6 linked regions of the Homo sapiens genome follow. The protein of the gene in region 6 purifies or fractionates together with the protein of the main gene of each other region. This does not show direct contact. Each region holds a gene or a part of one and is shown on either strand. Other genes may lie near its edges.

Evidence for each region.
Region 1: the proteins of SLC25A21 (region 6) and HMGN3 purify together in Homo sapiens (affinity purification with mass spectrometry; one large-scale study listed by BioGRID and IntAct). This does not show direct contact.
Region 2: the proteins of SLC25A21 (region 6) and BLVRA purify together in Homo sapiens (affinity purification with mass spectrometry; one large-scale study listed by BioGRID and IntAct). This does not show direct contact.
Region 3: the proteins of SLC25A21 (region 6) and AMMECR1 purify together in Homo sapiens (affinity purification with mass spectrometry; one large-scale study listed by BioGRID and IntAct). This does not show direct contact.
Region 4: the proteins of SLC25A21 (region 6) and NOSIP purify together in Homo sapiens (affinity purification with mass spectrometry, with the first as the bait; one large-scale study listed by BioGRID). This does not show direct contact.
Region 5: the proteins of SLC25A21 (region 6) and SLC2A12 purify together in Homo sapiens (co-immunoprecipitation; one large-scale study listed by IntAct). This does not show direct contact.

Annotation. Positions count from the first base shown.
Region 1 is NC_000006.12:79,231,455-79,237,151, forward strand, and holds the start of HMGN3 (high mobility group nucleosome-binding domain-containing protein 3), read right to left. Parts: upstream 3,229-5,697; 5' UTR 3,107-3,228; coding exon 3,092-3,106; exon of another isoform or gene 2,608-3,091; intron 2,474-2,607; exon of another isoform or gene 2,220-2,473; intron 1-2,219. UniProt on the Homo sapiens protein: Binds to nucleosomes, regulating chromatin structure and consequently, chromatin-dependent processes such as transcription, DNA replication and DNA repair.
Region 2 is NC_000007.14:43,757,023-43,762,504, forward strand, and holds the start of BLVRA (biliverdin reductase A), read left to right. Parts: upstream 1-1,657; 5' UTR 1,658-1,712; intron 1,713-2,994; exon of another isoform or gene 2,995-3,088; intron 3,089-5,482. UniProt on the Homo sapiens protein: Reduces the gamma-methene bridge of the open tetrapyrrole, biliverdin IXalpha, to bilirubin with the concomitant oxidation of a NADH or NADPH cofactor. Does not reduce bilirubin IXbeta.
Region 3 is NC_000023.11:110,258,062-110,262,958, reverse strand, and holds part of AMMECR1 (nuclear protein AMMECR1), read left to right. Parts: intron 1-4,897.
Region 4 is NC_000019.10:49,559,606-49,564,502, forward strand, and holds part of NOSIP (nitric oxide synthase-interacting protein), read right to left. Parts: intron 4,686-4,897; exon of another isoform or gene 4,552-4,685; coding exon of another isoform or gene 4,550-4,551; intron 1,088-4,549; coding exon of another isoform or gene 1,087-1,087; coding exon 1,017-1,086; intron 435-1,016; coding exon 329-434; intron 300-328; exon of another isoform or gene 1-299. UniProt on the Homo sapiens protein: E3 ubiquitin-protein ligase that is essential for proper development of the forebrain, the eye, and the face. Catalyzes monoubiquitination of serine/threonine-protein phosphatase 2A (PP2A) catalytic subunit PPP2CA/PPP2CB.
Region 5 is NC_000006.12:133,990,353-133,995,021, reverse strand, and holds part of SLC2A12 (solute carrier family 2, facilitated glucose transporter member 12), read left to right. Parts: intron 1-3,713; coding exon 3,714-3,867; 3' UTR 3,868-4,669. UniProt on the Homo sapiens protein: Insulin-independent facilitative glucose transporter.
Region 6 is NC_000014.9:36,678,696-36,683,592, reverse strand, and holds part of SLC25A21 (mitochondrial 2-oxodicarboxylate carrier), read left to right. Parts: intron 1-2,873; coding exon 2,874-2,935; 3' UTR 2,936-4,897. UniProt on the Homo sapiens protein: Transports dicarboxylates across the inner membranes of mitochondria by a counter-exchange mechanism.

The sequences.
Region 1 (5,697 bases), on a different chromosome or scaffold from region 6:
AGAGATAATATGCACTGAAGAACTCTTCACTAAGTGCTGTATTACTTCACAAAATACTATGGCATTTATAAAAAACCACTTGGCTTAATGTAGTTATGACTATCACACACAAAGATACACATAAAACTTACAAAGAAATGTCATCAGAACATTTTAATATTAATTCAGATGATATTATAGCCCTGAAGTTGCAAAACTGAGGCCTGGTCATGTTAAGATACAATCAGGAGACACACTTGAATACCTGGTAACAAAAAATGACTCTGACTTCTTTGTATATTTGAGTCCTACCCACACTTTTAAGACCAGCCTAAAGTTAACTTTCCTTATCTGTCCTACTGCTTGTGGGATCTATAACTACACATTCTGGAACACATACACAGTTTTAATGTTATTCAACTGTTTTGTGCTGCTAGTCTTATCACCTCATTGAATTAAACACAAGTTCCAAGAGGGCAAAAACTGTATGTCCCTACAGCATTACAACAGGGCTAGGATTCCAGATGTTTTCATTGACTTTATCTGTACCACTTCTTGCTCTGCAGAACAACTTACTCAGATGTTCATTAAATAACATTTCTTGATTTCTAGGAAAGGTTGATACAGGGGGCTAAGAAGGCAAAAAAGTACTAGGGGGACATTTTAAAAGCTTATTATATTGTAGAGCAGACAATTCTTTAGTCAAGAAAAATATTGTGTAGTATGTAAATGCTTTGGCAGTTACCCCAGCTTTGAAGATCTTGAAGAGCTATGCATGGATTGTCTCCAGTTCTTTTTTGTATCTAAGCAGGCTTTACCTAATGACAGTGGTTCCTCACATAAGTTCCAGTGAACTTCAGGATTCCATGAGGCTGCTCTAAGACTTGACTGATAGATGGATGGCCATGATCGCCGTGTTTAATCTGAGGTTGTTCCTGCCCAGGTACCAACTGAGGTCGTTAGGCTTCAGGTATAAATGGAAAGCCTTCCTATTAATCAAGGAGAGGTTTTCCATCACCGGAGAACACTCTGATGTCCTCAGGAATGACACACAGGTGCCTGTACACAGTTTTGCCCCTAGTCTCAGGACCATTGGCTAGCTTATGCATGGGGGTTCCCTGCCTTCCAGGGAAATAAAACTGTAGCTGTAATTTTACTGTTATTTTAGTTTTTTTTTTTTTTCCTTCCGTCTCCTTGAGAGAGGCAGACAGGGGAAGTAAGAATAATGGTTTCAGCAGCTCTGGCCCTTGAATAAACAGCAAGGAAGGGTTCCATCGTCAGGGTCCATTATACATAAAGTGTGCACACCTAACCTACTGTTTATGTAAACAATGGTTATAATTCCCAGGAAAAAAAGATGGCCTCCAGCTCACTTACTCTGTAACCCGTATCTTGATGATTAGTTCCTTTGTCTCTACTAGAATTTCCAATCCATCATTAACCCTCAGTCAAAATGCTGAAAATGGTGACATCACTTAATATCCTAATTCTAGTAAAACAGGGCTAGAAAATACCTTCATAAAATTAAGTTTAAATAATAAATCTCAAGTATTAGTGCTCTTAATATGCCATCTGTCTTCTTAAACTGGGAGTACCTTTGGATTTCCTTAATTCCTCTTGACCCACCCTTTCGTAAGTGAGTACGAAATGGGTGAGAATAAGACTTTGGCATCTATAGCATCTGATTAAATCTTTACTAGTAGTTATTGGTTGGTGAGATGCAGGACAATTTATGTCTTTAAGTCCCAGCTGAATGGGGGTAACACCGCTCAAGCTGTTTTCAGGATTAAATGAGATAATGCAAGTCAAATTCTGCACAGCGTGAGGGACACAGTATGTGCACAACAAACTCTAAGACTTTTAAACACTTTCAATTATTTTTAAAAAGTGGGGTAGGAGACAAGTTTCTACCCAATTTTTAGTAATAACATATAAGAAGGGGAAAGCTTTTGAATTTTTAAAACTTCAGTATTTTAAAATAATGCAGTCACTCTCACACACAAATTAGTCCATGGTCTTTGATAAAGCAAGACATTAGGTGTAATTTTGCTTCAAATTTAATACCCACACTCGTTGACACTGTTGGAAACACTGAGGCTGGCGGTGGGAGGGTGCAAAGCACTTGCTTAGGAACCAGCTGAGAAATCCTCACTGATTTCTCAGGGAGGAGGAAACCTTTCCCTTCCCTCCCCGGGACAAGTCGAAGCCCCACCCCGAGGGAGATTTGTGTCCCTGAATGTAGTAGTTGGTGTCCGGGGCCTGCGCAGAAGAGGACAGTCCGCAAGGGGCGGAAGACAAGACAAAAATGACTCCAGTTCGCTAGACGCGCAGAGGGGCGGATAGCGCGCGGACCCCGCCTTCCCCAACCGAGTGTGGGTTCCAGTCGCTGGGGAGGACCTGGTGGCCCCCTGACCTTGGACGAGCCATATTGGACGCCCCGGCGCCGTCCCGTCTTCCACGCTGCCAACTCCACCGCTCCCGCCCCGAACTGCGGGTAGGTCCAGGCCGCCAGGCCCCGCCTCGCCGGCCCCAGCCCTGATTGACACTGGAGTTGGTACATACGGGTCTGCAGCGGAGGCGAGCAGGAGGGTGAGCGCTATTTTAAACATGGCTTTCTCTTTCCCTTAGCCTAGGAGCCACCGCAGCGCACCCAGCCCGCGAGTACAGCCGCATGGGAATAATCCCAACATTTGCCTGATTTATTTTCTTCCCTCTCCTTACGCTTGTACTTGTTTTTCTCCTCTCGCTGTTTTCCCTTCACACTAATTCGCAACCTGGCAGTTTGCAAAGAGGAAACTCCCTTTCGGAATGGAAAGCCGCTTTTGCTTCTTGTTGTTGGGGGTGGAAAACATTCCAGCGAGAATGAGTTCAAAAAGAAGGGAAACCGCGTCACTGGAGAGAAAGTAACATTAAGAGATCGATGAGGACGGAGTGGGTAGGGGGGACAGAGAGAGGAACGTCTGCAACAGGCATCTAAAAACAAGCGTGGAGGAGCAAAGATTCCCAATCCCCGGGTTACTACCGCGCGCGTTCTGCGCGAGCCATTGCAATGCCAGCATTTACTGTAAGCAGAATTTGAAGGCTTTTGAAATCTTTTTTTGGTAAGACTTACCTTTCTCTTCGGCATAATGACTATGTCGGTGAAGCAAAAAGTAAAGCAACGGACTGGAACTGCTGGCGCCGCCGCTGGATGCTGCCTCTGCCTCTGCAGCTGCTCACGCGCAGGGCACGACGTAGCCCGGCCTCTTCGACCTGCACCTCCGCGGCTCCCTCTGGGGGCCCTCTGCTCGCCTCCCTGCTGCTCCAATGAGGAGCCCCGCCAGCCGGCCGCGAGGCCCCATTGGCTGAGGCAACGTTCTAAATTCCACGAGGGCACGCCCACCTCCGCGCGCGGTACGCGCTGTTGTAGTTTCCACTTCACCGAAAAAAATCTGCCTGGCGACTGAGCATGCCCAGTTCAACTAGTAGCCTCCAGGCCACACAATCCTGAAGTTTCATTGTTTCGCTGCTCTCTCTTTGAGATTGTAAGAATAAGAACAGTGTGTGTCTTCATAGGAAGGAAAAAGAGTAAGAATGAATACGTAAACTTTATAATGTAAATATATACACAGCAGGTACCTTATTCATTTCCTACCCATAAAGGCTTTTAATGAATGTTACATGGTGGGAATCTGTAAAGCGTGGGAAGGTACTCTGTACTGGAAGAGCGTGGCAACTTCTAAAGGCCTCAGTTTCCCCCCCTAGATATATAGTGACAACAGTCCCTAAAATCACTTAGCTCTAATTTTCTGAAATCTGTGATTATAAATCACTCACTAATTCAGCTAACTTCAAACTAGATGTGAAGACGAATAGGACATGTTTGTTACGGAAATTAGGAAAAGAAAGAACAAGGCAAAAACTGATTATTTTATATTTGAGACATATATTTGAATGACACCCGTCATGTTACACTTTATGCGTAATATTTCTCAAAGTTCTGCAAGGCATAAAATGAGCATTGCAAAAATATTTCTGAATTCATTTTATGAGACCAGATTTACTCTGATACCAAAACCAGTGAAAGACTTCAAAAGAGAGTTACAGACCAATATCACTCATAAACATAGACACAAAAGTCGTGAACAAAATTTTAGTAAATGAAACTCAACAACATTTAAAGGGACAATACATCATGACCTGTGGGGCTTATCTTGGGAATGCAAAGCTGCTTTTTTAATATCTGAGAATCAATCAATGTAATTGGCAGGATTAATAGAATAAAGGGGGAAAAACAATCCTTTCAGCAGATGCAGGAAAAGCGCTAGTGAATGGGTAAGCAAATTGTGATGAGCACATGCAGTGGAATACTATTCAGCAATAAAAAACAATAAAAAATTTTCCTACATGGATGAATATCAAAAACAAAGTGCTGTACGAAAGAAGTCAAATACAAAAGACCACACTGAATGATTGCATTCATATGAAATTATAGAAAAAGCAAAATTGGGCAAAGTTAGTTTCAGAATCATCTTAGCAGGCAAAGCTCACATCATAGGAAAATGTGTTGAAGCCTTACATTACAAATATGGCCAAATCCACTTTGGTAACACAGAGGCTGCAAATATGTATTAAAAATATCATGTATTAAATATGTATTAAAAAAGCAATGAAGTTTAATATTTCACTTTTTCTTTAGTAATTTTCAGAATACATTAATTGATCTAGTACTCTCCAGAGGTGGTTGATTACTTTCTTTTTTGGAACATCTTTATGAACTCATGGATTTTTACATATTTGGTGTGCATCAGTGTATTGCTATCATTATTATTACCTTTTTAATGCTCCTATTACCACATCTTTAGCCAATGCATACCCTTTCAAATTAGTGCTTGTGTCCTTTTGACATGATCTTAATCATTTTTGATAGATTCCCTGTTCTTGGGCATTCAGTGAATGACAATAGTATACTGAAACGAATTAAGATAAAAACCAATTGCTTAGAGCTAGATAAAAATTTACAAGTTAATAATTTTATCATTAAAATAATATTTATAATGAAGATGTCTTTCAAGATATTAATTTGCCAAATACTTGATAGTTAAATAAAGAAAAAGTCAGTGAAAACATTTTTAGTAAGATATGTGTGAGAAGGATACTGAGTAGCACTTGCAATCTGGACTGGATGGCTATTTTTCTTCATGGAGATGGAAAGGTGCCACAACAAAGGTAGTGCTAAGGTGAATATTTCTCCTCTGTGATGAAAAATAACTCACAAAATTGGCTTCTTTGTTAATTTTTTTTCAAAACCAAACACTCAGATCATCAACAGCAAACAAAATTGTGAATGTTTTTACTGCACACAATAAAAATGCTACGATGAAATTGAAGCTTGCTTGTTGGATGAAGAAAGCTGATTGTGAGGACCTCGAGTTCTTGGAATCTTTAGTTCATTTACAAGTTATGAAAATAACAGCTTCGGTTGAAAAACAACAGCATTGCTTATCTTTCCTTTGATGTAGATTGCACCTGGCTGAGCACTACTCTAGGAAATGAAGTGTTCTCCCTTGTACCTTTAGTAGCCTTCAAGATCTGGGAAAGTCAGTGCAAACCTCTACTGGTGGCCCTGGAGGTAAGAAGAGTAGGCAAAGAGAATGATTTAGCAGGTAGCTAGAATTCTAGGTTAAGAGATAAAGACATCTGGGCAGAAATGAGGGTGTCACATAGAAGACAGTGAGG
Region 2 (5,482 bases), on a different chromosome or scaffold from region 6:
AGGGAGGGGTGGATGGAAGAGACAGATAACAAACAATAAGCTAAATAAACAAATTCAGTCAGGAGCTAAAGAAATAAGTCATTCAGGAGTGGGGCAGGTGGCAATTTCAAATGGAGTGGTTAGGGTAGTTCTCAATGAGGCAGCATTTGAGAAAATATCAGGAAGAGTGAGAAGTAGTCGAGCATTCCAAACAGACAGGAGCCTGTGCAAAGACCCTGCAGCAGAGCCCTGTCTGCCTTGCATAAGAAATAGCAGGGAGGCCAGAGTGACTGGAGCAGAGTGAGCCAGTGGGGAGGCAGTAGCAGATGAGGTTGTAGGGGTAACAGAGGAGCAGATCAGGCAGGGCTTTGGGTTTTACTCTGAGTTTGGGAAACCACTGGGAAGGTTTTGGGCAGAGGAGGAATTTGATCTGGCTTTCTTTTTTTAAGGTCACTCTGGCTGCTTTATGGGGACAGGCTGCAGGGATATCAGGGAAGAGACCACTGTCATGACCCAGGTAGCAGATGATGGAGGCAGAGGTAAGAAGTGGTCAGGCTCTGGGTATGCTAGGGAGATCCAACCAACAGAATTTTTGGGCCCTGGAGGTGGGATGTGAGAGAAAGGTTTCTGAAACAGCAAGGTTTCTGGCCTTGACAACTGGAAGATGGAGTTGCCATCGAGATGGTGATGCTATGGGGAAGAGATCAGGGGCACAGATTTGGATGTGTTGAGATTGAAATGTATTTTAGAGATCCAAGAGGAGGTATTAAGGAGGCAGCTGGATAGAGGAGTATGGAGTTCAGGAGGCAGGTCCCGCCTGGAGATAAAAATTCAAAGCCAAGCCTTCTCTCTTTGCACTCAACAAAACCTCACTTAAACAGGCTTGTCAGGTCATGGAATACGGTACTAGAACTCTTTGTTGGGGAAAATGCCAGTCAACCTTACCCGTCAGAACGCTGCCTTTAAGATCAGAGATCTCTTTCCTTCAGCCTAATCCACCCCTCTCCCTGTTTTCTCCCCTAGCCCCACTAGGCTAGAAGCTCCCTGGCTTCTCCCACATCAGGATCCCCAACAAACCCATTCCCAGGTGGATAAGAGCCCAGGCAGTTCCCTAGACCACGTTCACTACTTCCTAGCTACCCAAGAGCAGGACATCGCAGACACCGGCCTCCTGGAATATTCCCTCCGCTCCTCACATTTACAGGAAGGACTCAGGTAAGCCTCGGCGCCAGTTCAGTCGGCCCGGGGCCACTAAATACCAATGGGATCCAGTGGGTTCTACGTGGTGAGTGGGGGGCGGATAAGAGAGATGCGACACCCCCCGGGCCTGCCCCCCCCACGCCGGGGCCAGGCACACCGTGAGGGGGCCAGGCACACCGTGAGGGGGCCCAGCCACTTCCATACGCCCTCCGGTCGGCCGGCACCCACCACCCACCCCTCGCCACCAAGCTGGGTGCAGAGAACAGGGCAGGCGCACGGACGGTTCTTACGGCCCCAGGCGCCAGACCCAGGGCACAGAGGCCAGGATCTCACGCGCGACCGCACGAGGCCGGGACCCTCCCTCCCCTTCCGTCCACTCCCTTCCCCACCGCCTCCGGTCCCCTCCCGGTCTCCGCCACCCCGCTTCGGGGCCCCCGCCCCCCAGCCGGGCAGCCAATCGGAGCTGGGATCCCGCCCCGGTCCGCAAAGCCGGTGGCGCCCGGAGGCTGCACGGAGAGCGGTGCCCGCGTCAGGTGAGGCGCGCGCGGGGAACGGGGGTCGCGCGCAGGGGAGCGGGGGTCGCGCGCGGCTTCCATAGAGCGCTAGGGCCTGAGCTCGAAGCCCCAGGCCCGCAGGAGGCCCGGGCCCGCGGCCGCCAGAGCCGGGACGCAGCCTGGGCGCCGCCTGCCCCGCCCCGCCCCGCCCGGGCCCGGAGTGAGGACGCGGTCGGAGGCCCAGCAGCGCGGGTCCCGGCAAGGGGCTTTCTCAACTACACAAAAGACAGTCTAAAAAATTAAGTCTCCATTTCGGTTAAGACTGCCCGTAGTTTCGGTTTTTATGTAGACCCAAGAGGGCAGGCTCGGCGTCCGCGTGCCGCGTAGTCCGGCGGCTCCAGGAGCGCGAGCGGCTGGGCCCGGGCGTAGCCACCGCAGGGCCGCTAGCTCGGCCGGGACCCGCCTGGGATGCCCTGGGGTCTGCTCCGCTGGGGCGAATCCTGAGGCGCCACGCGAGGCACTTGGCCTCTCCTAGCCCCGCTTTCGTTTTTGGAAACTGGAAACTATCACTTATTTCGTAGACGGTGTGAGGGTTACATGACAGTGTTCTGTAAAGTGCACTCTACATATGAAGTGCTCAGAAATATGGCTAATAATGAGGGTATTTATAAACTACTTAAATTATAAAAAGAATGAGACATCAGACTTACAGTTTTGGATACTAATTTTTTTCACTTAACGTTCATTATGTGATAGGAGTTTTCCATCCTATTATACCGCTGTGCGATCTGATCTTGGGCACGTTAACCAACCTCTTGTTGCCTCGATTTTCTCACCTGTAAAAGTGGGGGTAATCATAATGCTTACTTAGTAGGATAGCCCTGAAGAATAAGTGACTTAGCGAACATAAATAGCTTACAATAGGGTTTTCAGCATGGGAAGGATTCAGTAAATGTTAGCTGTCATCATCACCACCTACAAAGGAAGCAATACTGTGCTGAAAGTTTTTCCATCATTAATGTAATTTCTATAGTACGATTCCCAAGAAGATATTAAAATTATGGAAATAAAGGTATTGGTATATTCCTAATTATTTCCTAAAAGATTGTATTGATAAATATGCTCATCCTTCCCTTAACGGGATGCATTCCAGAAAAACAAGTCAAATGTTAGACAAAGTATCAGAAGGGAAATTCTGTAGCCAGAGAGCTAAAAATTACAATAGGGTCTCTAATTATACTTCAACTTTTTTAGGAATAATTCTCAGTGTGTTTTCCCACATTTCATATGTAATTTTTTTTTTTTTTTTTTTTTGAGACAGAGCCTCGCCCTGTCACCAGGCTGGAGTACAGTGGCGCGATCTCGGCTCACTGCAACTTCCACCTGCTGGGTTCAAGCAATTCTTCTGACCTCAGGTGATCCACCCGCCTCGGCCTCCCAAAGTGCTGGGATTATAACAGGCGTGGCATGAGTCACCGCGCCCGGCCGATCTTTACTTTTTTATTCTTTGTACCCCCTGCCTATCCAGTTAGCATGTGATTAAAGTCAAAGATTTGCCACTTTGGGCCACATCTATTAATTTTCATCTTTGTTATAATTGTATTTAGTTTTTGATCTACACTGCTTATTACTCCCAGTCATTTTTTCTAGAACTGAAAATCTGGTAAAATACTCAAAATTGCACTGACTTCTATGTAGAGGCGACACTCCATCAGAACCGTGGGCTGACAGGGAATCCCACTGTGCAGGAGCTGCGCGCATTTTCATTTCTGATTCTCTTTGGCGTATCCAGGACTCTGATGACATGATCATATATTTATCAGTAGTAACAGGTTGGGCCATTTGTTTTTTGTGGTAAATCATATATTTAAGATTTTAGAAATAAGTTGATAGCCATGTATTTTGGAATTTGAAAAAGACATTGCATTACTCAGCTTCAAATTAAGCTTTAATCAAATAGTGAAACTTTCCATTAATGGACAGTGTATACCTTTTTGTGTATTTAAAAAAAAAAACACTGAATATAGTGCCTTTGTGACAGGGGAGCTTAGTTCCTGACAATGTCCTCTTGAGTCTTTTTTTTTTTTTTTTGAGATGGAGTCTCACTGTGTCGCCCAGGCTGGAGTGCAGTGGCGCCATCTTGGCTCACTGCAACCTCCGCCCCCTGGGTTCAAGTGATTCTCATTCCTCAGCTTCCTAAGTAGCTGGGATTACAGGCACGCACCACCATGACCAGCTAATTTTTATACTTTTAGTAGAGACAGGGTTTTGCCATGTTGGCTAGGTTGGTCTCGAACTCCTGACCTCAAGTAATCCACCCACCATGGCCTCCCCAAAGTGCTGGGATTACAGGCGTGAGCCATTTCACCCGGCCTCTCTTCCGTCTTTGAGCTGTGAGGAAATAGCTACATTACATGAGCTGCTAGATCTGCCTTATGGTCAGAAATGAAGGTTGAACTCTCAGGAACAGTGACATATATACACACTGATATTTCCAAAGTACAATGCCCCAAATTGATCCACAAAGGAATTAAGGTCATTTGCAACAAAATCACAGAATAGTAACAAATAAATAGAAGATAAATATGGCCAGGAATTGAGATGAGAGAAAGTATAAGTACAAGAAACTATTCCAGGGGAAAAAAAGAATGAAGTGTTTCAGTGTTATCCAATAGAATTTTCTGTGATTATGAAAATGTGCTATATTTAATTAATTTATATTCCAATAGCCACTCTGTGTAGCGGCTCCCTTATAGGTCATTGCAGGCCTATATTTTTGTAGTTGAGTCCCAAATTTGTTTCTAGAAAGGTAAACTTGGTCAGTTACATGGTTCTTGTCTTTTGAAAGTAAAACATACATGGCAACTTCATTCATTCATTCATTCATTGATCCCCCAAATGTTAATGGCCTTGAAGGAAGCAGAGCCTTTCCTGATTCTCAGTTATAGGGAAAATTTTCTGTGGACTTCATTATCAGAGCACCTTGATATGTTATTGCCCTGTGAAAGTCTGTTCAGTTTGGGGCTAGGAGGGATGCAGTCAGTGAAAGTGGCATAGTTTGTAATGTTTTTTAGAGTTTTGAATAATTATGTTAACTAATCTTTATAGAAAAGTTTAAAGTGTACAGAGAAGCAAAAAGAAAGTAGTCACTAAAAGTTTCACCACTTAGAGACATAATTACTGGTAATATTTTGATGTATATATTTCCAGACTTGTGTCCCATGTAGCTATTATATTTTTCTCAATAGATCCCAAAGTATCCAACTCCCTCCAGGGCAAGAGTTGCTTTTACCTTTACCCTTAGACCTCTGAGGCTGGCAGCTGGCCCCACCTGAGAGGGTCACCCTCTCCCTAATCCTTCCCCATACTTCTGTGAGTCACCTGGCTTTGGGGCAATAATAGATACTTGAGAGGGCGTTTGAGGAGGAACAAGGAGGAAGGTCACAGCTGTAGTTCATTCTGCATGATGTGTAATCCAGGCTTTTTCAACTCTGGCACTGTTGACATTTTGGGCTGGATAATTCTTTGTGTATGTGTAGTTGGGGTAGGAAGGTGTCCTGTGCATCACAGGATGTTTTGCAGCATCCCTGGCCTTTCCCTACTAGATGCCAATGGCACATACCCTTTTCCCCCCGAGTACAACAATCAGAAATGTTGGTGAGAAATACTGGGTTAATGAAAATCACTAATTTATTGCTGACAAAGCTCTGGAGTTTCAGATTCCAATTTGCATGTGGGAAAGAGACTGAAATCAAAAGGGAAACATAATGTAAGCCAAGGAAGCTGTTTAGTCCTGGCTGTGCTATTAA
Region 3 (4,897 bases), on a different chromosome or scaffold from region 6:
CAGAACCTTTTATGTTAATAGTGTTATGTATATCTAAGAGAGAGAAATAGAATGTAGCATTTTCCAGGCTTATTTGACTACAGGACCCTTTTATCCTCCCACCCCAAAGTCTGAGTGTTCCAAGGAAAACATTTTTGGAAACACAAGTCTGTTTTCAAAACAGAATATTACTTTATATTTGGGTAGTAAGAGTTGGTATTATAGAAACCCTTTGTGCTTTCTAGTGAAATTGTAGCAGAAATCCCATTATCAAACATTATATACCTTAGAAATCTTTCGTAGTGGTCATTGTGGTAGCAATTGGGTTTTGTTTAAAGAAAAAAATAAATTCTTTTGCCAATGTTGGCAAGGGGTGAAAACATCCAACTTTTCTGGACTTGTCCATTTATATCCTAGGGTAATGACCAGAAGAATTACAGTATAATTTTCTGACAATAATGTGATTCTGAATGAATTGTTCAAATACTTGAAGTTGGAAATTTGCCTACATTTGTATACCTTGTTACCCTCATTGCAATCTATAGCTCTTCCTGTTTACTTTTCATCTTTTTTCTCATGTTTCTATACAGCTTCCTCAAATTGTATATATCACATTAAAGAGGCGTGTGTGTGTGCGTGTGTATACATATGTTTGTGTGTGTATACACACATGCACATACCTGGTTTTACTTCTCATTTTTGTTTGGCTTAATTTCTTTTGTATAACAAGATATTAACAATCATACTATTTGGAAAAGATGAACAAAAGAAAACAAGTCTTACAAAATACAATTAATCTTTTTTCCTGGATTCATTTTAGCATCAAAAGTTGTAAGGAGTCATTTTTAAAAGTTGGAATATAATATTTTTCTGTTCAGTAGTGTGCTTATCATTTTTACGTATTATGTTATTATGATTATTTTTGTTAATGGCTGCCATTTATTAAGAATTTACTATGTCAGACATTGTTGAGGAGCTTTACATGCATAGTCCTTGTAATAACCCTTAGGTACTAATATCTACATTTTCAAAATGAGGAAACTGAGAATTAGGTAATTTAAATAATTTACCCACTCACACATCTATTAAGTGATAGAACCAGGATTCAAACCCAGAGCATGTGTCTACAAAATCCATCCCCTAACCGAGGCAAAATTTTCTGATTATTTATGTTTTGCAGCTTTGTCATGAAAATAATGAACTTGAAAGCAAGTTACTATAAATTTTATAAATCATAGATCAGTAATCCTTCAAAAATTCTAGTTAGGAGTTAAGACTGAAATTTTGCAACAGGAAAATCCATAGATATTATTATGGAAAGTATACAACTCAGAGTTGTATAGAGCAGACAGAAGAAAATTGACTTGAACTAATATTGTATTAAGGATAAAGCTTATTACAAAACAATACTACTGTAGGATAGGAAATTGTATTCTTTGGCTACATGGACTAGACTTTAAGAATACAATTTTTTTTGAACATAAAAATTGGTGATTCTTGGCTTCTGGTCATCCCACCTTAAAAACCCATAACTCACAAAATGAATAAATAGAATTAAATGAACTTAGGGGATAGGGGCATAAAGGAGGGAGAAAGCAAAACAAAAAACAAAATAAAACAAAACAAAAAATAAGCAGTGAAATTAAAGGCATTCTAGGTATAGGCATCTTTTTAAAAATTCAAATATCCGGTTCATCTGTGATTAGATAGACTATTGTTTGATTTTCAGAATGTTACTCAATTATATCTCTTCTTTTTTTTTATTGTGGGGAAATATATGTAACATAAAATTTACCATTTTAACCATTTTTAAATGTATAGTCCTGTGGCCTTAAGCGCAATCATGTTGTTGTACAGTCATCACCACCATCCATCTCCAGAACGTTTTTCATCTTCCCCAACTGAAACTCTACCCATTAAACATGAACTCCACATTCTTCCTCCTCCAGGCCCTGGCAACCACCATTCTACTTTGCGTTGCTATGAATTTGACTACTCTAGGTACCTCGTATCAGTGGAATCATATGATATTTGTCATTTTGTGACTAGCTTATTTCACTTAGCATAATGTCTTCAAGGTTCATCCATGTGGTAGCGTGTGTCAATTTACCTTCTTTTTAAGGCAGAATATATTCCATTGTATGTATATACCACATTCTGTTTATCCTTTCATCCATTGGTGGACGTTTGGGTGGGTGGCTTCTACCTTTTGGCTGTTGTGAATAATGCTGCGATGAACATAGGTGCACAAAATATCTGTTTGAGTACCCTTTTTCCTCTTAAAAGTGAACCAGTTTATAGAAGACAATGATCTAGCTTGTGTGTAGTCCCTTAACTCTAAAACCTTTCTTAAAAATATGACCAGATATTTTTTAAAATGAAATGCCTATCCTGAATTAAGTTTTTATTTATAAATAAAATTATAAACTTTTAATTTTAATAAAATTATTTAAACTTTTAGAATTAAAGTACTTGTCATAGTCAAGTTGTATGTTCAAATATGACCGGGTATTTTTTAAATGAAATGCCTATCCTGAATTAAGTTTTTTAAATATATATATAAACATAATCTTTTAAATGTAAAGTACTTGTCAAAGTCAAGTCATATGTTCTCCTAATTGAAATTTTGATTTTAGATTGAAATAAAATCTTATAAAGAGGCTGAGGATTTCTTCTCAATTGTGAAAATACATAGTATTTGTGTAGGTAATGAAAAGTTTATGAGAAGTACATGGAACTATTATAAATAGACTATTCTTTGTCTGACCTTGAAGGATCTGGGTAAAAGCAGGAAAGATTATAGAAAATACGAAGCAGGATGGAGAGCTCAGAATTATTGATAAAAGTCTATCCATAGAATTTGGTGATAAAGTCCACAAATTACCCTATTTATCATTGCTCAAGACTTCAAAGTAGAAATATTCTTTGTCCGAGCTGAAGGAGATAATTTCCAGTATTGTGTTTATGGCTTTTATATATTAGAAAGCAGAGGCAGATTCATTTCCCCAATTTTAGTACTTAGAAAACATACTTTTATAGAGAGGAAAATTACCACTAATATAGATGAATATAAACATCTCAGTCAAAAAAGATTCCTGGCCGGGCGCGGTGGCTCACGCCTGTAATCCCAGTAATCCCAGGCCAGCGGATCACGAGGTCAGGAGATCGAGACCATCCTGGCTAACACGGTGAAACTCCGTCTCTACTAAAAATACAAAAAATTAGCCGGGCGTGGTGGCGGGTGCCTGTAGTCCCAGCTACTCGGGAGGCTGAGGCAGGAGAATGGCATGAACCCGGGAGGCAGAGCTTGCAGTGAGCCAAGATTGCGCCACTGCACTCCAGCCTGGGTGACAGAGCGAGACTCCATCTCTTAAAAAAAAAAAAAAAAGAAAAAGAAAGTTTCCTTAAAATTTTGGCTAATAAATTTCCCAGCAAAATGCAGATCTATTTCTTTATGTAAATTCAAGTTGGCAGTAATTTTTCTAGAACACATTAAGTAATTAATAGATGTATTCTTATTCAGCAAAACAGGATTGTGGTCTGTCACCACACTTAAAAGACTATCTTTTTTTCTCCTTTGTTGTACTTAGACCTCTCGGCAGTGAAATAATTATGCAGGTGCTGGCAGTTCTAGAACTTGATTGTGAACTATGCCACTTTTGTTGAACTACTTAATTCTAAGAAATTAGCAATGAAAGTTTAGCCCTTTCTAGGGAACAGTATGACCACATAAAAGGTGATGTGCTGTGTTTTGTTTTGGAGTTTTATTTTGTTCTGTGTGGGTTAGTGGGGTTGTGTGTCAGGGGAGTTTGAGGGGGGATTGATTGCTTGCATGGTACAAATATTCACTTTCCATTAGATTTTTTGAGATACTGAAAATAGCTAACAAACCTACTTTATTACTTTCAAAGGTCCTAGCTAGATTGGGTACTTATGGGATTCATTGTAAACTGAATTTGCTTTTATATTTTGGTGTTGTAATCTGGCATTTTTCTAAAGCAGTATGAGTTTAAAGCCATTATAAGCAGCATAATATTTTCCCTGTCATAGTAGACCATCGTGTGATCATTTTTATTCTTGATTATTTGGGTAACCACTCTAGGCTCATTGTGAACACTTAGATTAAACAAGTTCCTCCTCCCTCTCATTTAATATTAGTCTTTATGGTAGCATCACCCAGATTGATTTTTCTTATGAAAAGAAAAGCTGTATGAATCACCTCTGACTGTACATTATTGTTATGGAAGCTCATTCTGGAGATGTTAAGGCCAAACAATTTTTGGCAAGTGGTTGTGGCAAGACTTCTGGCTAAAGTATGCATTTTGGGGAAATAAATTAGATGTATCACAAACAATGCAAAATTAATTAGTTTAATTTACAACCTACATTTTTTGCCTTTTTATAAAAGAGATGATGGCCTGAGTCCTAAAACTTATACCTAATTTGATAGTTTCAGTTTATTAATTACAAAATGAGAAACATTTGTCAGATTTTATAGGCACTTAATTTAAGGTACAGTTTGGAACCTAGGTTGTTGTACGCTCTTTACTCAAAATTATCCACATGAAGCATGGTGAACTATCTGCTCAAACTGGAATCCTCATTTTAGCCATGAGGTTAATGCACTCCTTCGTTATCCCAAGGTTGTGCTAATGTGCAGAGATGTAGCCACAAAATTCCCAGCAGAATGTGGAAACTAAGCAGCAGGAACCATTTGCAGAATGGGTAATGGCTCCTGAATTGTAGAGAATTGTCTGAATTCATATAGCACCTACTGCCACAGAAATTAAGTGTAGTGAGTATATCAGATTCTAATTCCTTATCACATCATTTAGATCTTTAGAGTTTCCAGTTGGAATCTCCCTGCTGCTTTGATTAAGAGCCACAGGCAAAATGCCTGGGGCAGAAAAGGCCATCT
Region 4 (4,897 bases), on a different chromosome or scaffold from region 6:
GCCTGGACTCAGCACCTGTTAAGCCTTTGCCCTACCATCAGAGGTAGGTCATGGGAAGTGTCCAAAGGTGAGCTGCTCCGATGGCCTCGGCAATGCTCTGAGAGCCCTACACCCCATTAGAAGTATGTTCCTTTCCATATGTTCCACACTATGAAACAGATGCTAGGATCATGCCCATGTCCCATGTGAGAATACAGAGGCTCTGAGGATAAACTGCTCATCCAGGGTTCCCTGGCTGTGCAGGTGGCCAGACCCACGCACACAGCCTCCTCCTGGCGGTTCCCTTGCTCTCCCCACCCAGACCTACCCATCCCTGTTCCCAGCTCACGTGACAACAGGATCGTGGCAAGGCTGCAGGGAGAGACAACAGCAGTCGAAGTCCTTCACGGCATCCCGGCTCAGTCGAATGTTCTGGGTCCCATAGCCCGAGGCCGCTGGGGACAGAGATGGGCAGAGTGATGGAGGGGCGGAGCAACAGGAGACATGTCCGTCTCCAAAGCCCCAGAGAGAGGCACAGAGACAACGCGGTGGTGGGGGTGGGGGACTCAGAGAGAAACAGGCAGTTGGGAGCCGCTGCCTGTGTGCTGGGGCCACGGGCTGAACCCACAGGGAGTTGTCAACCCTGGAGGGTGAGAGGCAGACAGGCCTGGTCACTGAGTGGCAGCTTGGTGGAGGGGCTGACGGCTGACTCCCCTCCACCCTTCTGACTGTGACCAAGCTCAAGTGCCTGTCCCTCTTTGGGCCTCAGTTTCTTCCTCTGGAACATGGGGTAACAAGAGCACCCTCCCTGACACTCTGTTGGGAGGAGTGAGTTCATGCGCAGAAGGCAGAGAACACAGTGCCGGGCCACATGGGGTCATGGGATCACCCAGCTGTTGTTTACATGGTCATGGCCATCAGTGTATATCGGGGGCGGGAGAGAGACAGGGACAGAGGAAGCAAAACCTGGGGCACGAGGGGAGAGGGTGACTCCAAGACACAGCCATGTCCCGCCTCTTCCCACCCCAGCCCTGCACCTGTGTCCTTCTTCTTCTCGTGGTAGGTGTAGACGGCCCCTGCGGTGCAGTTCTTGCCATGCCGCGTCATCCTAGGGAGGAAGGGACAGTGGCAGGACTGTGGTTACCGGAGGCAGGCAGCACAGGGAAGACCTCTGCAGCCCTCAGAGCTGATCTGCCCCCCTTGATGGGAAAGCGGAGGCGGAGAAGGGGGGTGAGGTGGAAGAGAGGGAGGGCATGTGGTCGCCAGGCCTCCTCCAGGAAGTCCTCCTTCCAGACTCACCTAGACTCATTTATATGTGAAAATAGCACCTTTAACAACAAAACTCTTTGTTTGGAGGTAAGAGGGTGAGAGACCAGAGTTCAAATTCTAGCCACTACTTCAGATTAGCTAGGGTGGTGGCTGTGCCATTTAATGGAGGGGAAAAAAAAAGACACCAAGGGGGCCACTATTGTTGATGAATCCACTCCACCTTCCCTTCCCCTCTCATATCTGTAAGCTCTGACTGAGGCCAAGGCGTGGACCAGCCCAGTGATTGGCTCAAGGCTGGGCACTTAGCTAAGGCTTGACACTTAGCTAAGGCTTGACCCAATCGCTGCCTGCCAGTCCACTAGCGACTGGATCTAGCAGCTGTGATTATGTCTCAGATCGACCGATCAGAGGGCAGGTCAGAGTAGGGCTCTGTGTCTAGGGGAAGAGCTACCTCCACTCCCACTGCAGGTAAAGGAGGAAGAGAAGACCCCAGAACCCTGGAGCTCAATTCAAAAAGCAAAGCTTTTTTTATTCTGTAAGTTTTCAAACACATACAAAACCAGAATAGTATAAGGAACCCCCATGATGTACCCATGTCCTGCGGTCCAGCAGCTGTCAACATTTTGCCACCTTACTTTGATACCTTTGATCATTCCCCATACTTAAGGGCAACCCCCACCCTTTTAAATGACTTTATTGAGACACAATTCACATACCATAAAATTAACCCTTTTAAAGTGGTTTCAGACCAGGTGTAGTGGCTCACGCCTGTAATCTCAGCACTTTGGGAGGCTGAGTCAGGTGGATCACTTGAGTTCAGGAGTTCAAGATCAGCCTGGCCAACATGGTGAAACCCCGTCTCTACTAAAAATACAAAAATTAGCTGGGCGTGGTGGCACACGCCAGTAATCCCAACTACTCGGGAGGCTGAGGCACTGAGAATCACTTGAGCCCAGGAGGCAGGGGTTGCAGTGAGCCGACATCATGCCACTGCACTCCAACCTAGACAGAGCAAGGCTCTGTCACAATTAAAAAAAAAAAAAAAAAGACATTGCCTAAGCCAAGATAATGCACATTTATTCCTATGTTTTCTTCTAGGGGTTTGATCATTTTAACTTTTACTTTTTGAGTTAATTTTTGTGTATGGTGTGAGGAAGGGAGCCCCCTACTTTTCTGGAGTTCATTTGTAAAAGGAGAAGCCCTGAACCCACAGAGGCTGGGCAGCTTTCACCAAGACTGCTTGGCCAGTAAACAGCCTGCATGCCTGTTTGTTTGTTTGTTTTTTGAGACGGAGTTTCACTCTTGTTGCCCAGACTGGAATGCAATAGCATGATCTTGGCTCACTGAAACCTCTGCCTCCCAAGTTAAAGCGATTCTCCTGCCTCAGCTTCCCAAATAGCAGGGATTACAGGTGCCTGCCACCACGCCTGGCTAATTTTTTTGTATTTTTAGTAGAGACGGGGTTTCACCGTGTTGGCCAGGCTGGTCTTGAGCTCCTGACCTCAGGTGATCCACCTGCCTCAGCCTCCCAAAGTGCTGGGATTACAGGCGTGAGTCACTGTGCCTGGCCCCTGCAGGCTTTTTTATCCCTTAAAATGATTTAGAGCCAGGCTCAGGGCTCACGCCTGTAATCCCAAAACTTTGGGAGGCTGAAGCAAGAGGACTGTTGAGCCCAGGAGATGGAGATGAGCCTAGGCAACACAGCAAGATCCATCTCTATTAAATTTAAAAACAAAGAAGTTGATGGCCAGGTGCAGTGGCTGATGCCTGTAATCCCAGCACTTTGGGAAGCCGAGGCGGGGGCGGATCACGAGATCAAGAGATCGAGACCATCCTGGCCAACATGGTGAAACCCTGTCTCTACTAAAAATACAAAAATTAGCTGGGTGTGATGGCACATGCCTGTAGTCCCAGCTACTCGGGAGGCTGAAACAGGAGACTCATTGAACCTGGGAGGTGCAGGTTGCAGGGAGTGGAGATTGCACCACTACACTCCAGCCTGGTGACAGACAGAGACTCTGTCAAAAGAAAAAGAAGAGAAGAGAGAAGATCTAGTAACATTATATACTTGTCTCACTCATCTCTAAGTTGCCACCTAAAAATTCTCCCAAGCTTAAACAGTTGCAAAGGATACAATTTCCAGCAACGTAAATGTGTAGCTGATGGAATCTAAATACTGTAATAATTTGAGACCATTTGAAAAATGCAAGAAAAAGCTGTTTCAACAGCAGAAAATTATACATGTCCTGTTTTTCTCTTTGAACTTGTATTTCCGTTCCACTTCCCTCTCTGCCACCCATTTTTAATCTAACATCGTTTTTTCTTTTTGTTTTTTTTTTTGAGACAGGGACTCACTCTGTTGTCCAGGCTGGAGTGCAGTGGTACAATCACAGCTCACTGCAGCCTTGACCTCCTGGGCTCAAGTGATTCTCCTGCCTCAGCCTCTCGAGTAGCTGGGACTACAGGCATGTGCCACCACGCCCAGCTAATTTTTATATTTTTAGTAGAGATGGGGTTTTGCCATGTTGCCCAGGTTGGCCTTGAACTCCTGGACTCAAGTGAACTCCTGGCCTCCCAAAGTGTTGGGATTACAGGTGTGAGCCACTGCACCTGGCACATCATATCTTTTGTGCTTGAAAATTCTTTTTTTTTTTTTTGAGATCGAGTTTTGCTCTTGTTGCCCAAGCTGGAGTGCAATGGCACGATCTCAGCTCACTACAACCTCCGCCTCTTGGGTTCAAGCAATTCTCCTGCCTCAGCCTCCTAAGTAGCTGGGATTACAGGTGCATGCCACCATACCCAGCTAATTTTTTGTATTTTTAGTAGAAACAGGGTTTTACCATATTGGCTAGGCTGGCCTTGAACTCCTGACCTCAGGTGATCCACCCGCCTCGGCCTCCCAAAGTGCTGGGATTACAGGTGTGAGCCACTGTGCCCAGCCTGAAAATACTTGCTTTAGTGATCACCCTGTTATATGTCTCTGCAAGAAATAAAAAATATGGATAGGAAATCCTTTTAAACATTTCCCATTGTTCCTAGGCTATAAGAGTCCAATACTCTTCTAGATCAGTGGTTCTCAAAGTGTGGGTCCTAGGACCCTGTGGTCCCCCAACACATTTCTAGACAGTCTGCAAGGTCAAAACTGTTGTCTTAATAATACTAAGACATTATTTGCCTTTCTGATTCTCATTCTCTCACAAGTACACCAGAGGCTCCATGAGGTGTGACACTGCAACACTAAATTAGTAGTAATTTGTTACAACAATGATAGGAAACTAATATAGTCACCAGGGAAACGCACATTAAAACTTCACTGAAGGCCGAGCACCGTGGCTTACACCTGTAATCCCAGCACTTTGGAGGCTGAAGCGGGCAGATCACTTGAGGTCAGGAGTTCAAGTCCAGCCTGGCCAACATGGCAAAACCCCATCTGTACTAAAAATACAAAAAGTTAGCTGGTCGTGGTGGTGTGCGCCTGTAATCCCAGCTACTGGGGAGGCTGAGGCATGAGAATCGCTTGAACCTGGGAGGCGGAGGTTGCAGTGAGCCAAGATCACGCCACGGCACTCTAGCCTAGGGGACAGAGCGAGACTCCATCTCAAAAAAAAAAAAAAAAAAAAAAACAAAATAAAACTTCATTGAGATACCT
Region 5 (4,669 bases), on a different chromosome or scaffold from region 6:
TTAACATCCCAATTACCTCCATGTTGGTTAACTCTGTGGTCAATTCTCACTCCTCATCTTAGATTATCCCCAGCATTTGACTGGAGATAGTGCTCTTGGCTGGGGATAGTCCTTCCTGAAATGCTTGCCTCACATCCTTCTGCGACCCGTCCCCTGGTTATCTCTTACCTATGGTCTCTATTCCTCTGCTTCCTCTCTTAAAGTTGGTGTGCCCTGGGGCTTAGTCCCCTGACCACTTCTCTATCACCCTCACCAGCCAGTTGATCTCAGTCAATGTTAGTTTCTTTTTTGTTTGTTTGTTTGAGATGGAGTCTCGCTCTGTCGCCCAGGTTGGAGTGCCATCTCGGCTCAATGCAAGCTCTGCCTCCCAGGTTCACGCCATTCTCCTGCCTCAGCCTCCCGAGTAGCTGGGACTACAGGTGCCCGCCACCACGCCTGGCTAATTTTTTTGTATTTTTAGTAGAGACGGGGTTTCACCATGTTAGCCAGGATGGTCTCGATCTCCTGACCTCGTGATCCACCCACCTCGGCCTCCTAAAGTGCTGGGATTACAGGCGTGAGCCACCGCGTCCAGCCAGTTTTACAGTTTTTATCTCATTGATATGCCAGGGTCTGAAATTTATGTCTCTAGCTATCTCTCTAGAATTCAAGGCTTGTTTATTCAACTGCTTACTCTACATGTCTTTCCAAATGTCTAACAGATACCTAATACCTCACATGCCCTAAATTGAACCTGTGATGTTCTCAAACCTATTCTACTCACTGCCTTACCCACCTCAGTTGATGTCAATGTTATCCGACTACTTTGGCCACAAACTTTGGAGTCTTTCCTCTTTCTCACATACTCCACATTCAGTCTATCAGGAAGTTGTGTTGGCTCTTACTTCAAAATATATCCAGAGCCTGAACACCTTCACGGCTGCCCTGGTCTGAGTCACCATGATCTCCATCCTGAATTACTGCAATACCCACTTACTGGTCCCCATTTCTGCCTTTGTCCCCTCCCATCAGTTCTCTACACAGTGGCCAGAATGACCCCTTAAAATGCAATCAAGGTATTCTTTTGCTCCAATCCTCCAGTGGCTCTCCAGCAAGAGCAGAAGCCTTCCAATGCCCTTCCAGCCCTGCACAGCCTGCTAATCTCCCCTTCTTCTCTCACAGCCACACAGGCCAGAGGCTGCATCCCAGACACATCAAGCATGCTCAAGGCTCCAGATCGTGGCACTTGTTTTCTCTGCCTCGAATTCTCTTATCCTAGATATCCACCTGTCTTGCTGCTTCACCTCCAACAGACTTTTCCTGTCCCTCTATTTCAAATCCCAATTGTGTAGCCAACTCTGCACCCACTTTCCAATCCTTCAGTTTTAACCAAAGCAGAAACACTACATTTTACTTGGTCTACTGTCTATCTCTTCCTGCTATATTTAAATTCCATGAAGCCAGGGAATTTTGTTCACTGTTGTTTCCCAACACTTGGAACAATTCCTTGGCATATAATCGAAGCTCGGCATTGAATAGATGAAAAAACATGAATGAAATGGATACAAGAATAAGGTAATGAAGTAGTCAGGATGACACTGCAAGTTTTAGCTGAGAAACTGGACAGATGGTGAGATGCAGAAGCCTGAGAGAGGACTAGGTTTCAGGGCTCAGGACAGAATAGAGCTCGGATTTGGAGATATTGTGAGATGTCCATTAGACATCAAATAGACACATTAGTAGTAGGCAGTTGGATACGTAAGTCTGAAATTTGGAGACTCTAGGGGTTAGAGTCAAATGTGGGTGGCCATCAGCTTATAAGTGGTATTTAAGTCCTGAAGCCAGATAAGCTTATCTGGTCAGAGAACAGAGAGAGAAGGGACTAGGCCCAGTTTTGTGCCAAACTTAGAGACCGAGCAAAGAAGAGAGTGTTAAAAGGGACTGAAAAGAAGCCAACAGTGAGGCTGGAGGAAAGCCAGAAGTGTTGTAGGAAGGTGGGACTGGAGAGGCCAAGCACAAAGACAGATGTAAGCACAGGCTCAGCGGAATGAGAGGACAGAAGCTGACTGATGTGGTTGGAGGACAAAATGGAAGTGAAGTGAAGAAGCAACAGTCCACTCCTTACATCAATTTTGCTGTGAAGGGGAACAGAAAAGCAGGATGGTCATGCCCTAGACTCATTTCCAATCACTGCTTCATTCACAAGCATTCCACTCACCCTCTAACCACTCATCTCTCCAGCCCACTTCCTCAAGTACTGGCACTTCAACAAGTCTTCAGCCCCACGACGACCTGGAGGCCCATGCTCTCCCTTCCTTCCTTACCCTGCTTCCTACTTTCCATGGCCCACCAAGGCCACTTCTTCGCATTTCCCCTTCTCCCTTTACTCTCTTCTCTCTCCCTCCATCACTCAGGCAAACCTTAACTCTGACCAAGTCAACTCTTAGTTTATTTTAACCCTGCATTCAAGGAGCTAAACCTGGCTGAATCAAACACACAACTATGCTGATAAGCCTTGTTTTCACCTTATGAACATACATCTCAAGTAGATCTTGAGGAATACCCTGCAATATACCACATTTCCCTGGTGAGTTGACGTTCCTACTTTCGAAGATGATTACTTCACACCAATACTTTTCCCAAGCCTCCAGGACCCCCTCCCACTTCTTCACTCTAATTATTTTGCTTTTTAGTTCACTGAGAAAATAAATTGAGACCACCTTGTCCTCCTGCCACAAGATCTTCTAACCTACCTACATCTATGCCCACACACACTGCCTTGTTGCAAAGGCCAATGCTTCCATTTGTACACTGACTGCATCAATTTCCCCCTCCTATGGGATTATCATCACGCACACACGCACAAAGCTGCAGTATTTCCCATCCTGAAAAAATACCTTCCTCAGATTTCCCTCCAGATACCAACCGTTTCCCTGCCCCAACTTCTCAGGTCTCTGGGATTCTCTGCAGGAGTTCCCTCCCTAACTTCATTCCATTTTCTGATCATTGTCACTGCTTTAGAGAGATGCCACCTGTATAATACAGTCTGTCCTCTCCCACCCAACTAAACCCTTTTTTCTCCTTCCCCGTTTATTTCTCATTTGCACTTTTACTACTTCAAGTTATAAGCTCGTCTCCCCTCTAAAATCTAAGTAAGCTCCTTGAAAACAGAAGTCTTTATCTACTCAACCCATACTACCTACATATTGTGGCCACTCAAATCATTGGTTAAATTACAGAAAAAGGTATTTGAAAAGGGAGGTTCAAAGGCAGCTCTTCATTTTTAGTAAAGGTAAAATACAATAGCATCTTTTTATGCTGATGGGAAGAATCCTGTAGAAAAATTTGTTAATGCAGGAGTAAGGGATAACGTAGAAGATAGAAGAGATATAAATATAGGCACATTGCTGGAGTTTGAGAAATGGAAAAAAATAAGGTCTGGGATGAAACCTCCACTGGTTCTCTGTATGTAATACTATCCTTGGAATCCTTCCCCACAGAGCTGACTGCTGGGATTGTATTCTGAGAAGACACCGTTACCCCTTGCATGAGATTGACCAAAGTCTGTGGCATACTGAATTTCATGATGCAGCAGGATTCCTAATAAAAATGTGTATTTATTTTTGCATAGCTAAAACATTAAAGCCCCAGGGTGGTTTAAAAAATAATAGCCTACACATTTTTTTCATGTAAACTAAGAATGACATTTTCATTAGTGCCTCTTTCTCTTTCAGGAACTATGTGAAAAACAACATTTGTTTTATGAGTCATCACCAAGAAGAATTAGTGCCAAAACAGCCTCAAAAAAGAAAACCCCAGGAGCAGCTCTTGGAGTGTAACAAGCTGTGTGGTAGGGGCCAATCCAGGCAGCTTTCTCCAGAGACCTAATGGCCTCAACACCTTCTGAACGTGGATAGTGCCAGAACACTTAGGAGGGTGTCTTTGGACCAATGCATAGTTGCGACTCCTGTGCTCTCTTTTCAGTGTCATGGAACTGGTTTTGAAGAGACACTCTGAAATGATAAAGACAGCCTTTAATCCCCCTCCTCCCCAGAAGGAACCTCAAAAGGTAGATGAGGTACAAGGTCCTAAGTGATCTCTTTTTCTGAGCAGGATATCAGGTTAAAAAAAAAAAGTTACTGGCTGGTTTAATACTTTCTACCTTCTTCACAGAGCAGCCTTTGAATAGACTATGTCCTAGTGAAGACATCAACCTCCGCCTTAAGCTATGTATGTATGGAGGCCAGTCGCAGCTTTATTATGCAGACACACAAGTGGTCTGGACATGAGGGTACAGTTTCTGCCTACCAAGACACTACTTGCACTGGATCTTACGCAAAAAAGAACCAGAACACACAGTGTGGACAACTGCCCATATATTCTATCTAGATTAGGAGAGGGTCCTGGCTAGGATTTTAGTGGTAATTCCTAGTTACATTCAACAAGTATAAAGATTATAGAGCTTATTTTATGAACTATAAACTATAATTTAATGCAAAATATCCTTTTATGAATTTCATGTTAATATTGTGAAATATTAAAATAATTCCACAATAGTTGAGAAAAATGAGCATTTTTTTCCATTTTTAAAAAATGCATAGAAAAGACAATTTTAAAATCCTGGGACCATATTTATTTAGAAGTAGCTGTTAGTAAAACATTAGAAAAGGAGTCAGGCCATTAGGTTATT
Region 6 (4,897 bases):
CAGCTTAAGTCAATAGGAAGAAGCCACAGGCAGTTGGAGTTTGAGTGAGAGCCGAGGTGTGTGCAGTGGCTTCTGGCTGAAGGGGAGGCTTTTCACTGAGTGAGGGACCAGCCCAGTCAAACGTTTCCTCGTGCTCCTAATTCATTCTTGCTCCTGCCTCAACTTCATTTCAAAAAAAGAAAAGGAGGACAGCTTGCCTCCATGAACAGCAAAGCCACTCATCTTTACAGTCACCTCTGGGGAGTGGTGACACCGTAACTAGCTGCTTACCTCTCCTGGGCTTTGTCAGCATGACGCTGGAGGCTTCTGGCTCAGGGCCTCACTTCAGGACGCCTACCCACAAAAAAACCGGCTGCCATTCCCACAGGGAGAATCGGCTGCCTCTATGTAAATAGATAAGAAAATAACTTCTGCAGACTCAACCGCCAGGGCAAATAGTCTCAGATTATAAGCAACCTTGTGAATAAGTACAAAAGTATACTCTAGACCACACATATATTTTTTTTATCAGGCTACACTCACCTACTTATACATACTGGTAATATTTCCTAGAACCTTCTCCTACACCTCCCCTCTCTCCCTTTGCAGTTCCTCCCTTTTAACACTATTGTCCTCCTACCCTGCTACACAAACACACATGCACATTCACCTTTAGATCTCAGCCCAATGAACCAACATTTCTATTAATCTAAGATAGAGAACAAGAGTCTGTAAATTGAAGCTGGTGAACAGCTCACACTTTCATATATTTAGGAAACACTTCCACAATTCCCAACCCATCTATCCCAATCTTTATAGGCCTTTACACATGGATTTTGTTTCATATTTGGGATTCAGACCTACCTTCCGTTAGTTATTGGCCCATGTGTAAAAGCTAACGCAGTAATAGAACGTGGGGAATTTTGTGCATCTCTGCCAGTATGTGGTGTTTTTCCTTCACCGCAGAGTAAAAACCTGCTAGTAGACCTAATATGAGAGGAAATCACAGCACCAGCCCTCAACCAACATTCTCAGAAAGGGATGGGCCTAAAAAGGGTGATGACAAGGGAGAGGTTAGCTAAAATGGTAATTGACTGGAACCTTCATCCAAAACTCTTAAATAATCTGACCCCAAGTTTTGTTAGAGGCTTGCAAATGTTTGGCTGGCTTTTTAAATGTTTTGCGTGAGAGGTCCTGAGTTGCTGTGGTGTTAGACTCAAAGAAAAGGGTTCTTGTGAACTGACTGTCCAGGCTAAGCCAAACTGTGAATATCTGGGAACCACTCACAGACCTGCCCTCCACTTCATTCCAAATGTGTGCATCCCAGCGACTTCAAAGCAAAGAAACCTAGAAAGAAAGGTACCACTGAGTTAAAGATTAAGACTTTTGAATGAAGGGTGAAATTTTTTTCTTTAAAGAATGAGAGAGAGAGAAAAAAAAAAAGAATGAGAGAGAGACAGTAAAAAAAAGAAAAGAAAGGTGAGCCTGGAATTTTTGTTCTTTGTTCTGGAGAAGCATCCAGCATTTTTACAATAGCCTTAGCAGCTCAATGTGGCTAACAATCAGGTACCTTCCATGAAAGAATCTTGAAGTCTGTGATTTAAACCTCAACTGTTACTAGGCCAAAAACTAACCCAACTCTGCATATTCTTGTCTTACATTGTGAATGATTAGTAAGAATAAATGCAGCGATTACCTACACATTAATGACCCTCTGTAGTGCAGCTCTTTTTGTTTGCCAGAGTTCCAAGAGGCCTAGAGAAGCTAAGAGGGACTAATAGAGTATCTTCATGGGTTAAAAATGAAAATTACAGGCAGATAATTATCTTTGGTATATGGTTACACAAACATGTGCAGCCTATAGATTAAAAAAAAAAGTATATGGCAGTGTGTTCAAAATAACTAAGACCCAAATCAAGTTCTATTTCTTTCCATCAGAAGTCAATCTTCTATTTCATGCAGCCAAGTCTTCTCTAAGTTGTGTTCAGGATATTTGTCCAAATTTTGATTTTGTGATGTTTTTCACACAGTTAGACATAAAAGGATAAAAAGAGATTATCCTGAAGGGCACAGGACACATGCTATTTACTGCATCAAATAGAACATAAAATGATCCATGTACAAATGCTTCTCCCAGTGGCTAGGTATTCAGCAGCCTCAGTGCCTGCTTTTCTGTATCACATTCCTGTTGACATAATACAGAGCATGTCTCTTCACAGCCAGTTATGTAGCTCTTTTCTTCCAAGACAAATGGTGGTCTCATGCCATCCAACCCCCACTACCAAATTTTCAAGTTCAAATCCATATACAACTGAAGCAGATAAAAGGAATGAAGGTTAGCTTTCAACCTCCTTTTGTTAGGTTTTGCAATGCAGATTTTTTAAATATTCAGAATCTAATTTCCACGTAGCAATGCAGTTTGAAAGCTATGACAGAAAACTAGACTCATCCATCAAGCACCATCTTAGAGATTTTCTTCTTGAATGCAATTAAGACTGCTAATTACGGACTGAAAAAGATAAATCCTTTATCTACACATGAAGAATCTGAAGGTTTCTGTTCACAGGAAAGCCACATGCCCTTACATGACTAAATATGCCTATATTTATTTACTTTTAAAAATTGAAAGTGCTTGAAAAAGAATCTGATGACAAATGATGAAAGTTGCAAAAACTCATGGGGAAAAATGTATTTGGAGACTCAAGATGGTCTTGATTTTATCCTGAGAATTTTCCACAGTAGTTTATATCTTGGTATTGAAGCTCCAGAACTGTTGATTCCGAACAGCCTCTGCCTGACAGGCTGTGCGAGACATCATGGATTCAGAAACCCAGTGGGAAAGCCAGTGCTATTCCAGAGGATTTGCAATAAAAAACAGCTCTTTTCTTTTCTAGGTGGTGCAGTGATGCTGCTGGTTTATGAATACACCTATTCATGGCTTCAAGAGAACTGGTGATTGCCTATGAAGTGTTTTTCCCCCTTGAGATAATGGATATTTGCTATGCAGCACCATGAAGAAGAGAGACTATCGATCGGCCAGGTGTATAATTATGAAGGAGAAAACTGTTCAAGAACAAAATCTATTTTAATACTTTAAAAAATGTCTATAGGCAACTTGAGATTATAGTTTTGGCTGTATAAATAAAACTGTGAGAAGAAAAAAATAATATGAAACAATGAGGTATTTAAAGTGAATATAGAAAAATAGCATAGAAATCATATATTTATTTCATAAAATAAATAGAAACTTTGTCTCCTGTGTTCCTCTTCAATGCTTCACAATGAAAATTCATTGTATTGATCAGCATTTTTCCTAAGAGGTCTAGAAATGCTTAAACTATTGAAAATAAATCAAATTATTCAAAGACTGGATTAAAAAAAAGTTAAGCCAAAATTTAAGCAGTTTTTATAATGAATTAAATTATTCCATAAATAATATTTAAAGAGCACAAGAAAAATTTTTTAAAGTGCACTAAAATGACCTTTTAAGAATGTTTAATTTTATGAATACTATGTTAAAATGTAAATCTGTTGGTTTTTTTTAGTAACTATGCACATATCAGCTCTATTTTCCTACATCTACTTTATATCTCATATTGCTGTAAGATAATAAATAGGTATTTTAAAACATTGTTTAAAACAGAATGTTAAAACACTGTTGTTTAAGCATGTTTAAATCAAGGTATTCCAAATCTCTTCTAACACAAGTAGGAAACATGAAATAAAATTTACTTTCCTCCACATAGTTCTCTTTGAAGATAAGTTTTGTTGATGAGATATTGTCATGTTAAATCACAAATTGGAAACACCTTTGGACCCATTTGTCAGCCATCAGTATTTGCATCCAAATACCTTTATTCAGCATGCCTACCTGTGCCATTTTTAGGAAGAATGTATAGAACAGAACTGCATTTTCAGGTTATTAGTTTTAAACGACAACTTCAGGTGGGAAGTCAGCTGTCTGCAGTATTAAAATATGTATGATGAAGGGGAAATGTTCTGAAAAAGAAATACACTTAGCATTTCTAAGGATTACTATACTAACATGTATCAACAAAAATATCTCCTTGGTCTTGATGTAACCAAACTTGATTTTATATCTGCATCCAGAGATGATGCTGATTCAGTAAAGTCAACAAGAATAACTGAAAGTCCATATGACACCTGTCCTAAGTTACTACCGTGGGCTATTTCTACTACGGGGCTATTTCACTAAAGCATTTTGAAAATAAAAAGTAAAAGATAACATGGTAATTATTACTTTTTATTAATTTAGAGCATTTGAAGTATAAAAATAAAAGGCTTTTGACATACTGTATATACATACATAGCCTTCTGTTGTACATCCTTTCCAACGTGTTTTTTAAAATTTATATTTCAGTCCAATATTCAATAAAAGGGTCATTAAAAACAAAACAAAATTGTGAAAAAAAAGAAATAAGAATGTGTCTCTGTTGCACAACTGCATTCTATCCTTGCAGGTAATATTCTTACATCCAATGAGAGCGCTGCCTGCATAGAGGTCATGAAATTGAACCTTTAACCTCTCCATGTGGATCAGATAGAAAAGGATTTCTGAAGAGTGCATTTGCCAGTTTAAAAGCAACACTTTTACCATCTATGAGATAGAGGAAATATGTCAACATTAACCAATAATAATCTTTAAAAGTTAACCCTTTAATCCATCCTATTTTCCTTCTCGTATTTTAAAAAGTGGCTTTAAATCATAATTTTCTTTGAATAGCAAATTGTATCTGATATCTTTTAAAAATTACTCCATGTGAATTCACTGTTAAGACCTAGAGGGAGAAAAGGAAACTTCAATACCATTAATATTAGATTTTTTAAAATACAAGAACCAGAAAAAAATTATAAATAGCACAATAACAAGAGATTTCTTAATTTAGATAAAGAAAAT